Regions from separate parts of the Homo sapiens genome. Here region 2 is linked to region 1. The links come from fine-mapping of genetic effects on gene expression. A gene starts in region 1. The other region holds a variant in brackets. All regions are shown on one strand. Distances are from middle to middle.

Region 1 (5,382 bases):
CTTTGTTAAATGCCTTGTTGAAGATAACAGACATATGACATTCTTCCACTGGCTAAAGTACATAAACCTCTTGCTTATATAAGTAAGAGTTAAGCATCATAAATGATGTTCATATTAATCTAAAGGCAAGAATTTCTTGGAACTAGTGAGGTAGTTTCATGGAAATCGGATGGTAAAGGACAAATGAAGTTAATGGAGTCATTTAAAAAATAACTAAACTTAAAAAGTATTAAATTACTCAATCATGAACATTTTAGTCTTTAAAAATTTTTTAAACAGTTTTCACAGAAACTATTTTAAAGTCCTATTAAAGGTAAAAACCTCCAAAATAACCACAGACACAATTATTTTATAACACTTGTGGACCCATGGCAAAACGGAAAAGGGGCAGAAGATGAAGAAAGAACCAGGCTTCCTCCTGATTTATTACTTCCTGGATATTTGACTTCGGGCAAACCATTTACCTCTGAAGACCTGAGCTACCAGTCATTACCAGTTTATTAATTCTGAATCCTCATAATGAGAATAATGGCGAATAACAACTAACTTGCTGTGCTGTTGTGAAAATAATTAATTTTTTTTTTGAGACAAAGTCTCACTCTGTCACCCAGGCTGGAGTGCAGTGGAGCCATCTCTGCTCACTGCAACCTACACCTCTCGGGTTCAGAAGCGATTCTCCTGCCTCAGCCTCCCAAGTAGCTGGAATTGCAGGCGCCCGCCACCATGCCTGGCTAATTTTTCTATTTTTAGTAGAGGCAGGGTTTCACCATGTTGGCCAGGCTGGTCTGAAAACTCCTGACCTCAAATGATCCACCCACCTAGGCCTTCCAAAATGCTGGGATTACAGGCATGAGCCATGGCACCCAACAGAGAATAAAATTTATTTATTTATTTATTTATTTATTTATTTATTTATTTATTTATTTATTTTTGAGACAGAGTCTTGCTCTGTCTCAAGACAGAACCAGGCTGGAGTGCAGTGGAGAATAAAATATTTTTTTAAAAAAGATCTTAGCAAATTGTAAACTGTGATACAGGTAAGATATTACCTTTAAAAAAGGTAGGAATTCTAAGAATCCATTTGTATTCTAACACTATACTCTATCCTCACTTTGAATTTTTGTTGTTGTTGTTGTTTATTTTTTATAGAGATGGGGATCTCGCTATGTTGCCCAGGTGGGTCTCGAACTTCCAGCCTCAAGCTATTCTCCTGCCTAGACCTCCCAAAATGCTGGGATGGGATTACAGGCCTGCCATCTCGTTGACCTCTCGCTTTGATTTTTTTCTAGCCTTAATACTGTTTGTTTATAAAACACCTCACTTTCACAGAACAAGTGCATTTTGAAGGCTTTAGGCTCTTTTAAAAACCCAGGTACACAAGGTAGCTTACACAAGGTAAGGGACAGAAAAAGGCAAGCTAGCTATTTTACAGACTAAATTCTAAGTAACATATACCCAAATTGCCAATGTAGCTAGGCAAATGCAGACCCGTTTGTGATCTGGTTTCAGCTTCACGTTGTTTGGTTAAACGTCAATGCATCCATCAGGTAACATTATAACGGGAGCAGACGTTGGTTAAAGCTTAAACAATCAGACAAACTGCTCCCCTTGGGATTCTCTGATTTATTTACTCTAGAATATGCCTGAATGTAGCCTCTAGCTAGAACTTGAGTGACCGATTCTATCCAAAATTCTTTAAACTGTAAAGGACACATTAGTGTACCACTAACAGTACATTTAAAATCTAACAATTCCAAAAAAAACTAAGCAGTGTTAAAGAAACTTCCATTTTCTGTGGTTTTTAAGTTGTCATGTGTGAAGCGATAAACCAACCGGGTGCACAACATCTCATTTAATCCATCCTCACAACCAGCAGGGAGGTGTACCATCGCCTTTTTACAAACAAGTCTGTCTCACCTCTAGCTGAGAGTCTTACAAGTCTCTTGCTATTTCCATCACATTTGTCTAACTCCATTCAACACGCCAGAAAAACTCACTTTATTAATAAATATCCAGGCCTGCACAGCATACCTAAATTTAACCTTCAACATCATTTCAACTGCCCTGTTTCGCCTGAGGTTATCAGTCCGCTTAATAGCGAAAAGAGGTTTTTCGTTTTGGTTTTCTTATGTATTAGAAGTAAATCAAGAAAGAGAAACTAAACTGTAAGAGGGCAGGAACAGACTTTCAACTGCTTTTGCCCCCTGTGGCTAACTTCATAATAACAACATTTAATAGAAAAAGGTTTTGAAACGTGCCCCAGTGGCAACTGGATATTCTGGCTGTCCATCTCTCTCCTGTCATCCACTTTGCAAATTCACCACTCCGGGAACTTTCCTGAGAGTTCAAGGTTCTTAATTCAAAAGTCAAGTCCAAACTTGAGCAAGGACTTACGTCATTTTACAGCGTTAACCTCTCCCCAGTGTCGGTTTCTAGAAGTTTTGACTCACTTTGCGGGGAGGTCTAAAGAATCGGTTTAATGACAACCACTGGCCTTAGGAGAGGGAGCTCCCGGAGAAAGAGCGAGCAAGCTAGGTGCCCGCGGTGCGGCTGCGGCTGGCGCCGGTCCGAGCTCGGGAGCTGCTGCCCAGCGAGCGGGGAAAGCCCGTCCACCTCGGCCAGCGCGCGCGGGAGACAGGACCGAGCCGGGCGACAGGGGCAGCCGCCCGGAGGGGCGCGGGGAGTGGGGCAGGGCCGGGTCGCACCTGAAACCGCGGGGCGGCTCCGGTCCAGCTCGGCGGACGAACTCCGGGAGACCCCCACGTCCCCGGGCGGGAGGGGCAGCTCCTCGTCGCCGGCCTCGCCCTCCTCCCCGGCAGCGTCCAGCAGCCTCACGGCGCTGCCTGGGGCGCCTCTCCGCGGGTGGGCCCAGGCGATCCGCGGTAGCAGCGGCTCCCGCTCCCCATCCTCCTCCTCCTCCGGGCTCCCGCCGTCCGCGGACGCCAACCGGTCGGGCTCGGAGGGATCCTCCATGGACTCCCTCTGCTCCCTCCGCGCTGAGACCAGATCAGAGCAGCCAGGTGCCAGAGACTGGGCTCTGCATGGCGCGGAACGGGAGCGACCGGGTAGAACGGACGCCACCTCACCAGCGCACGGGCACGCTTGGCGCCCGCCCAGCGGTTGTCCCGCCTCGCCGCCGGCCGCGCCCCACCTCGCGCCTCCGCCAGGCACCACCCCCGCGCCTGCGCAGAAGGGTCGTGGCGGCGGCGGCGGCGGCAGCGGGGCACGTGGGAGTGAACAGGGGGCGGGGCTTTTGAGGGGTCAGGTGGGGTGGGGCCGCCACCTGCTTCCGTGAGCGCGGGGAGAAGCTGGGCACAGCTCGCTTTACTCCCAGTGGAGGGCGGGAAGGTGAGTAATTTTCAAAGAGGTGCCCTCCTGCAACCAAAAGCGGCTTCTCCCTGACAGAATTCTCTCTCAGAGTTTACCATAATCTGTAACTATAGATTTAATTGTATGACATTTCTTTCCTCCAGTAGACGTCCAGGAGGGCAGGGACCTTGTCTTTGTTCAGATATTCTTGATAGTGGCAGTTTGTATGTTTTCTTTTTCTGACTAATCTAGCTAGAAGTTTATCAATTTTTAAATCTTTTCAAAATGTCATGTTTTGGTTCCATTGATTTTCTGTTTTCTGGTCCATTGCCTTATTTTGCTCTTTATTGCTCACTTGAGTTTTGATTTCCTCTTCTTTTTCTAGTTGCTTAGAGTAGAAGATGATTGATTCTGGATCTTTCTGCTTTTCCAATGCTAGTATTTTAAGGCTATAAATTGCCCTCTAAGCACTGCTTTAGCTGAATTCTCCTTTTTTTTTTTCTTGGTGGTTGTTATTTTTGAGACAGGGTCTCACTTTGTTATCCAGGCTGGAGTGCAGTGACACAATCATAGCTCACTGCAGTCTCAACCTCCTAAGCTCAAGGGATCTTCTCAGCTTTAAACTGTAGAAGACACAGTAGCTGGAACTGCAGGTGTGCACGACCACATCCTGTTAATTTTTAAATTTAAATTTTTTGTAGAGATGGGATCTCACTGTTGCCCAGATTGGTCTTGAGCTCCTGGTCTCAAGCAGTCGTCCTGCTTCAGCATCCCAAAATTCTGGGATTACAAGCATAAGCCACCTTGCCTGGCCTGCTACTGTGCTTTTGTTTTCCTTCAGCTGAAAATAGTTTTTAATTTCCTTTATGATTTCCTCTTTGACCCTGTAAAGGAAAATAAAAATCTCAGAACCACCCCCCACCCCCAACTTGTTATGTCAAAGGGAGAGTTAAGCCTGGAGACTGAAGTCACTCAACACTACAATGCTTTTCCCAAATGGATAGCTGTTACTTCCCATAGTTGTATTAAAACTTTATATGTTAGCCAGACCCTCCTCAAAATGCAAAAAAAAGCCTTATGCATCTCAGTCTCAGGATGACTGTCCTCAACAAATTAATCATAGTAAATTCTTTACTGGCCCTTAAACCTTTCAAGATGTATATCCTTCCATAAAACAAGGACGTGTCAATTGTATAACTTTAAGTCTGCAACCTAAATCAAACTGGTACAACTAAAGTCTGTTAAATTTCACATGGATAAATTCAGTTACAAGCTTATCTTCCCAGATGCAGAACAAGGATAAGATCAATCATTCCTTCACCTGAGATATCTGTATAATTAACTTCCTTTACTCCATTTTCTTTGAATATTCACCTTATCTTATGCATAGCATAGAGTTACTGGGCACTACCTAAAGTCTAGCAAAAATGTAACCATTTGCTTCACCACCTACAACCCTCTTCCCTGATGCCTTCTCCGCTTTAAAGAAAGAATAGCTGTAATTACAGGTGCCTGCCACCATGCACGGCTAATTTTTGTATTTTTTAGTAGAGATAGGGTTTCACCACATTGGCCAGGCTGGTCTCGAACTCCTGACCTCAGATGATCCACCCGCCTCGGCCTCCCAAAGTGCTGGGATTACAGGTGTGAGGTACTGCACCTGGCCTGTAAATGCCTTTTAATTGGAGTTTGGGGTCCATTTACATTTAATGTAATAATGATGTGGTTGGATTTAGATCTATTATTTTGCAATTTGGGTTTTATTTGCTTTAACCTTTTCGGTTCCTCTGTTCCTCCTTTCCTGCCTTCGTTTGGATTAATTCAATAATTCTGATTATTTCATTTTCATTCCACCATTGACTTTCTGTTATACTTATTTTTTTTCTTTTTTTGAGATGGAGTTTCACTCTTGCTGCCCAGGTAGGAGTGCAGTGGTGCAATCTTGGCTCACTGCAACCTCTGTCTCCTGGGTTCAAGCTATTCTCCTGCCTCAGCCTTCTGAGTAACTGGGACTACAGGCACATGCCACCATGCCCAGCTAATTTTTGTATTTTTAGTAGAGACGAGGTTTCA
Region 2 (5,382 bases), 29 kb before region 1:
TAACAAATTGCAAAACAGAATTTACACAGGCCATATTCACAGATCACAATGCAATAATGCTGGAAAATAACAATGAACAGTTTCTTAGAAATAGTAATAATGGACAATTAAAATAAGCTGACGTAGAAATTTTAAGATCAAACAAAATACTTCTAAATTATTCCTGTCAAAAAGAAAGTCAGAAAATATGAGTATGTAAAGCAGAGCCATAGAGTACCACCTGTGCAACCCGTGATTTAGCCAAAATGATACCCAGAGGAAAGTATGAGGCCTAATATGCATTTATAGGAAAGCGATATAGCATGAACATAATAGGAGAAAAGAATAATGATGGAAAACATAAATCTATAAAAGAAAAAGCAAACAAACTAAAAGCCTGATCTATAAAATAAAAAGGCAATTATCTGGGGAAAAAGAGCATAAATAATTAAATAAATAGAAGGACCGATGCTTAACAATAGACAAATCTTTGGCAAGCCTAATGAGTAAAAGGCTCACTAATAAATTGAAGGAATTTAAAAGAGACATATCATGGATACAAATTTTTTTTTTTTTTTTTTTTTTTGGTGAGACAGAGATTTACTCTTGTTGCCCAGGCTGGAGTGCAATGGCGCGATCTCGGCTCACAGCATCCTCTGCCTCCCAGGTTCAAGCGATTCTCCTGCCTCGGCCTCCCGAGTAGCTGGGATTACAGGCATGTGTCACCACACCCGGCTAATTTTGTATTTTTAGTAGAGATGGAGTTTCACCATGTTGCCCAGGCTGATCTCAAACTCCTGACCTCAGGTAATCCACCCACCTCAGCCTCCCAAAGTGCTGGGATTACAGGCGTGAGCCACTGCACCCAGCCAGATTTTTTAAACATACTATATATTTTTTATTTTATTTTTGAGACAGGGCCTTACACTCTTGTCACCCAGGCTGGAGTACAGTGGTGCCATCTTGGCTCACTGCAACCTCCACCTCCCAAGCTCAAGTAATCCTCTCACCTCAGTCTCCCAAGTAGCTAGGACTACAGGCATCGGCCACCACACCTGGCTCATTTTTGTATTTTTTGTAGAGATGGGGTTTCGCCATGTTGCCCAGGCTGGTCTTGGACTCCTGAGCTCAAGTGATCTGCTAGCCTCAGCCCCCAAAGTGCTGGGATTACAGGTGTGAGCCACCATGCCTGGCCCATATATTTTAAACACATACAAATATCAGAAAACAACTATAATAAACTCCCATGTTAACTCAATCATTACCAATTTTTTTTTGCAAAACTGGCTTTATTTATCCCTCCTGGTCCACACCACCAATATTTTAAGGCAAATTACAGAAATCATTTCATTTAACTCCCTAAATACTCAATACGCACAGAGGGAATTTTTTTAATTATAAGAGAATTCTAATAAAATGCTATACTCATAAATTTAAAACTCAAGAAATCATGGAAAATTTTAAGCAAAATAAAAGTGCCTAAAACTGGTTCAAGAAGATGTAGAAAACGTAATCATTTACCACAAAAGAGACTGGGAAAGCAATTAAAGCACTACTCCCTAAAAATGAGGTCAGGTGGAGGGCAGGCCTAAATTGTTTTAGAAGTGAATACAACGAAAAACGTAAAATATAGTTCTACCAAATATTAAAATAATTTCAATGTTATATATTTTTTAAAAACTGGAACACTACTAAACTCATTTTCCAAGGATAACACAAAACCTAAAAATCAAAACCAGTCATCCCAGAATAAGCAAAAAATTCATAGCAAGACCCTGTAGTATACATTTGCATCCCTAATGCCTAAAACTGAGCCTTAATGAATAATCATATTTCATCTACTTTTTCCTCCGCTATGGTATCTGTAAATTTTTTTCCCTTCTCATTCTGGAAAAAAGGTAATTATAGACTCTACAGAAGGTTCTAAATACTCACATGCTCTCCATTCATCAGGATGTTTAAAAGGAAATGCTAGACCATTATCAATTGCAGCTATTTTAATAAGGAATTCTTCATCATCAATCCATTTTGATTCCTATAGAGTAGAAAAATGATATGTTGATAAAAGAACCTATATAAATATTCCCAAAGGATAAATTATTTATAATAATTATTGAGGTTTAAGAACATATTCTCTCGGATGAGCCTATAAAAATAATGTTACCAGAAAAAGTACAAATTCACACAGGAATGGAAGAGACTGTCTGAAAAAACAGTGTATTTCCTAACCACTATTTTTTAAAATTTCATATTATACCATTACTCAGTAATGGTTTCAAGTTTTTTCTCTTTAAAAGGCTTGAAAATATTGTGACTTTAAAAAGTGATGTTCTAGATAATTTACTGCTAGATTCATTGCTTAAATGTATGATGTAAAATATTACTAATTTTTTTAAACACCTTAATAATCACCTTATTAAGACCTAGTCTTTCTTAGGGTCCCAAAGAAATAAATCAAACACAAAATGTTTCTAAATGAAACTCCTTCAAAGACCATAATTAAATATAAGATCTAGTAGAAGGAACCTCAAGATATTCTTGAATGTAGGTGTTATTTTTTGGCTGTGTCCCCACCCAAAATCTCATCTTGAATTGTAATCCCCTGTAATCCTTATGTGTCAAGGGTGGGACCAGGTGGAGGTAATCGGATCATGGGGGCAGTTTCTGCCATGCTGTTCTCGTGACAGTGAGTGAGTTCTCATGAGATTTGATGGTTTTGCAAGCGTCTGGCATTTCTCCTACACTCATTCTCCTGCCACCCTGTGAAGAGGTGCCTTCTGCCATGATTGTAAGTTTCCTGAGGCCTCCCCAGCCATGCAGAATTGTGAGTCTCTTTTCTTTATAAATGACCCAGCCTTGGGTATTTCGTCATAGCAGTGTGAGAATGTACTAATACAGTAGGCCGTTCCTAACTTCTGTATTCTTCCATAACAGAAATAAAGATCTCAGGAGAAAGAGGGTTTTCATGTTAAAGAGTATTTCTGCGGAAGGTAATTTATCAAGCTCAACTATCTTTAGAGGTAATTATTGTGA[A/G]TATCTGTTTTATTTTACCACGGTGGTTCACACGGCTCTGATGTTAACTTCGTATTTTTGGAATTGCTTTACTTAGAAATTAAAACAGAATAAAGTTAAAAGTGTGTGTTTTTTAAAGAAAAAAAAAGGGTATTCTGATTAAAGATAGATGGCCATTACTAAGTGGCCTAGATACAATAACAAAAAGTAAAACAGAAAATTTTTAATTTAAAAGCACTACAGTGAAGGCTGATGTGAGGTACGCCAACTTTATTTCTTTTAGTTTATATCAAATGTCTTACACCTCATTGAAAGTGCACAAAATACTTAGAGCAAAAGAATTTTCAGCAAAATCTAACAGCTCAAGATATACAAATAAAATAATTTGGGGAGCTTATGTTATTTAATTATCTTTAATTTTTTTATTTTTTTGAGACAGGGTCTTGCTCTGTCACCCAAGCTAGAGTGCAGAGGCACAACCACAACTCACTGCAGCATTGACTTCCTGTGCCCAAGCAATCCTCCCACCTCAGCCTCCCGAATAGCTGGGACCACAGGTGCCTGCCACCATGTCCGGCTAATTTATTTCATTTTACTTTTTCTACTATCTTTAAGTCTTTTATCCTTAAGTGGCGCTTTAAAAAGATTTTTTTTTAATTCTTTGTAGACACAGGGTCTCAGACTCCTGGACTCAATCAATCCTCCCACCTTGGCGTCCCAAAGTGCTGTGATTACAGGCATGAGCCACTGTGCCCAGCCCAGGAGCTTATACATATGAGCATTTATGTTTGTATTTTAAGCCCATTTCTGCTACAACTGCCATTTATTATTATTTCTACTATTCTTTCCTATTTACAACTTTATTAAGGTATAATTTATACACAATTAACTTCCTATATTAACAAGTACAATGTGATGAGCCTTGACATATGTGAAACTTCCACGCCAAAGTTTCCTTGTGTCCCTCTGCAGTCCAGCTACTGGTCTGTTTTCTGTCACTAGAAACTAGTTTGCATTTTCTAATTTTTAAATATAAATATACAATATGTTCCCTTTATGTGTAGCTTCTTTCACTCAGCATAATTTTAAGTTTCATCCACGCTATTGTATCGTTTGTTCCTTTTTATTGCTAAGTGCTACGAATATGTATTTTTAAATATCCTTGATAAACATTTAAAAGCACAAACTTTTAAAAATGATGCAACAGCTTTAAGTCATTACTTGAGAACATAAATTATAAATATTGAAGAAATATTTTTAATCACTTAAAACTTTCCCAAATGTACAAACTGTTTTAAACTTGTAAAAGTATTTTATAAAAAAAATCTTATGTAAATATCTAAAACTTCAACTTGGTACTCAAAGTCGATAGCAATTACTCTAAAATCTATAACTCTCATATCAGTGTTGAGGCTCTATGCAGTCTATTATATATGTTAAAACCAGCTTCTTATAAATAGCAAAAGTATTTAATACTTTTTTTAAGTTCAGTGGACAAGATTCACAGGTTAAGCACACATGTTCCATTTATTAGGTAATATTGTATTATCTAATACTGAATGAAAGGACTCAGAAGAAAGTGAATTAGTAAAATACAAACATGGTGAACAAAAATCCCAGAAGCCTTTATTACATAAAAGCAAAATATGGGGATTCCATATATTTCTCAAACTCTAAAAAAGTACTAGGCAGGTATTATTCTTCTATTCTAATATGAAATAAAAAATAAAGCTGCCCAACAATTAATAAAAGAAAAAACAGAACTGGCTGGGTGTGGTGGCACATGACTGTAATCCCAGCACTTTGGGAGGCCAAGGCGGATGGATTGCTTGAGGCCAGAAGTTCGAGACCAGCCTGGCCAACACGGCAAAATCCCACCCCTAAAAAAAAAAAAAAAAAAAAATCAAGAATCAAGAAATGCAACGTAAACAAGTGACAAAAATAAAAAGTGTGAGAAAAACAGAGACAGTAGATTTAAAAACCAAGGATTAAGTGAAAGAAGGAGGAAATGGTGAAGAATAACTTAAAGGAATCTTTTACAGAAATTGAATATATATATATATAATATTCACAAGTTATACACAATTATATACACGTGTGTGTGTGTATGTGTGTGTGTGTGTGTGTGTGTATATATATATATATATATATATATATATATAAAATTGTAAATTTCCTTACCTTATGGTCAATTTCCTTTTCACATTTCTGCTTTTCGTATCTGACTAACCAATTATCATTGCCCCTGTCTTTCAAAACAAACAAGAAAATCTGTTACTTCATTTCTATGGACATCATGGCTTAATATCAATGAGAAAACTCTAGTGATCTCCTGATTTTTGAGACTTTCACTGGTTATCTGTAGCATATTAAAGGTCACAATTTAACACA

Alleles and levels. Alleles are on the strand shown, and positions count from the first base shown. SD is a standard deviation of normalised expression in the study named.
With allele A in place of G in region 2, the expression in prefrontal cortex of the gene that starts at base 3,104 in region 1 is higher (small effect, 0.21 SD a copy in BrainSeq).

What was found. PIP is the estimated chance that this variant, and not a neighbour inherited with it, causes the effect.
Region 2: its variant is the best candidate, but not a certain one, in a credible set for the expression of PI4K2B in prefrontal cortex (BrainSeq, PIP 0.88).

Annotation. Positions count from the first base shown.
Region 1 is chr4:25,231,755-25,237,136 of GRCh38, reverse strand. PI4K2B (phosphatidylinositol 4-kinase type 2 beta) reads right to left here and starts at 3,104. Exons shown (of 10, transcript NM_018323.4): 1 at 2,706-3,104. The coding sequence starts at 2,973. LOC105374535 (a long non-coding RNA gene) reads left to right here and starts at 3,272. Exons shown (of 4, transcript XR_925490.3): 1 at 3,272-3,348. RefSeq lists enhancers at 2,215-2,344, 2,277-2,776, 2,777-3,278 and silencers at 2,565-2,624, 2,665-2,904, 3,005-3,314.
Region 2 is chr4:25,260,382-25,265,763 of GRCh38, reverse strand. PI4K2B (phosphatidylinositol 4-kinase type 2 beta) reads right to left here. Exons shown (of 10, transcript NM_018323.4): 6 at 5,173-5,240; 7 at 1,915-2,014. Among named protein-coding and RNA genes, the nearest start is that of PI4K2B, 29 kb to the right of the region's middle. The variant A/G (reference allele first, on the strand shown) is at 3,013.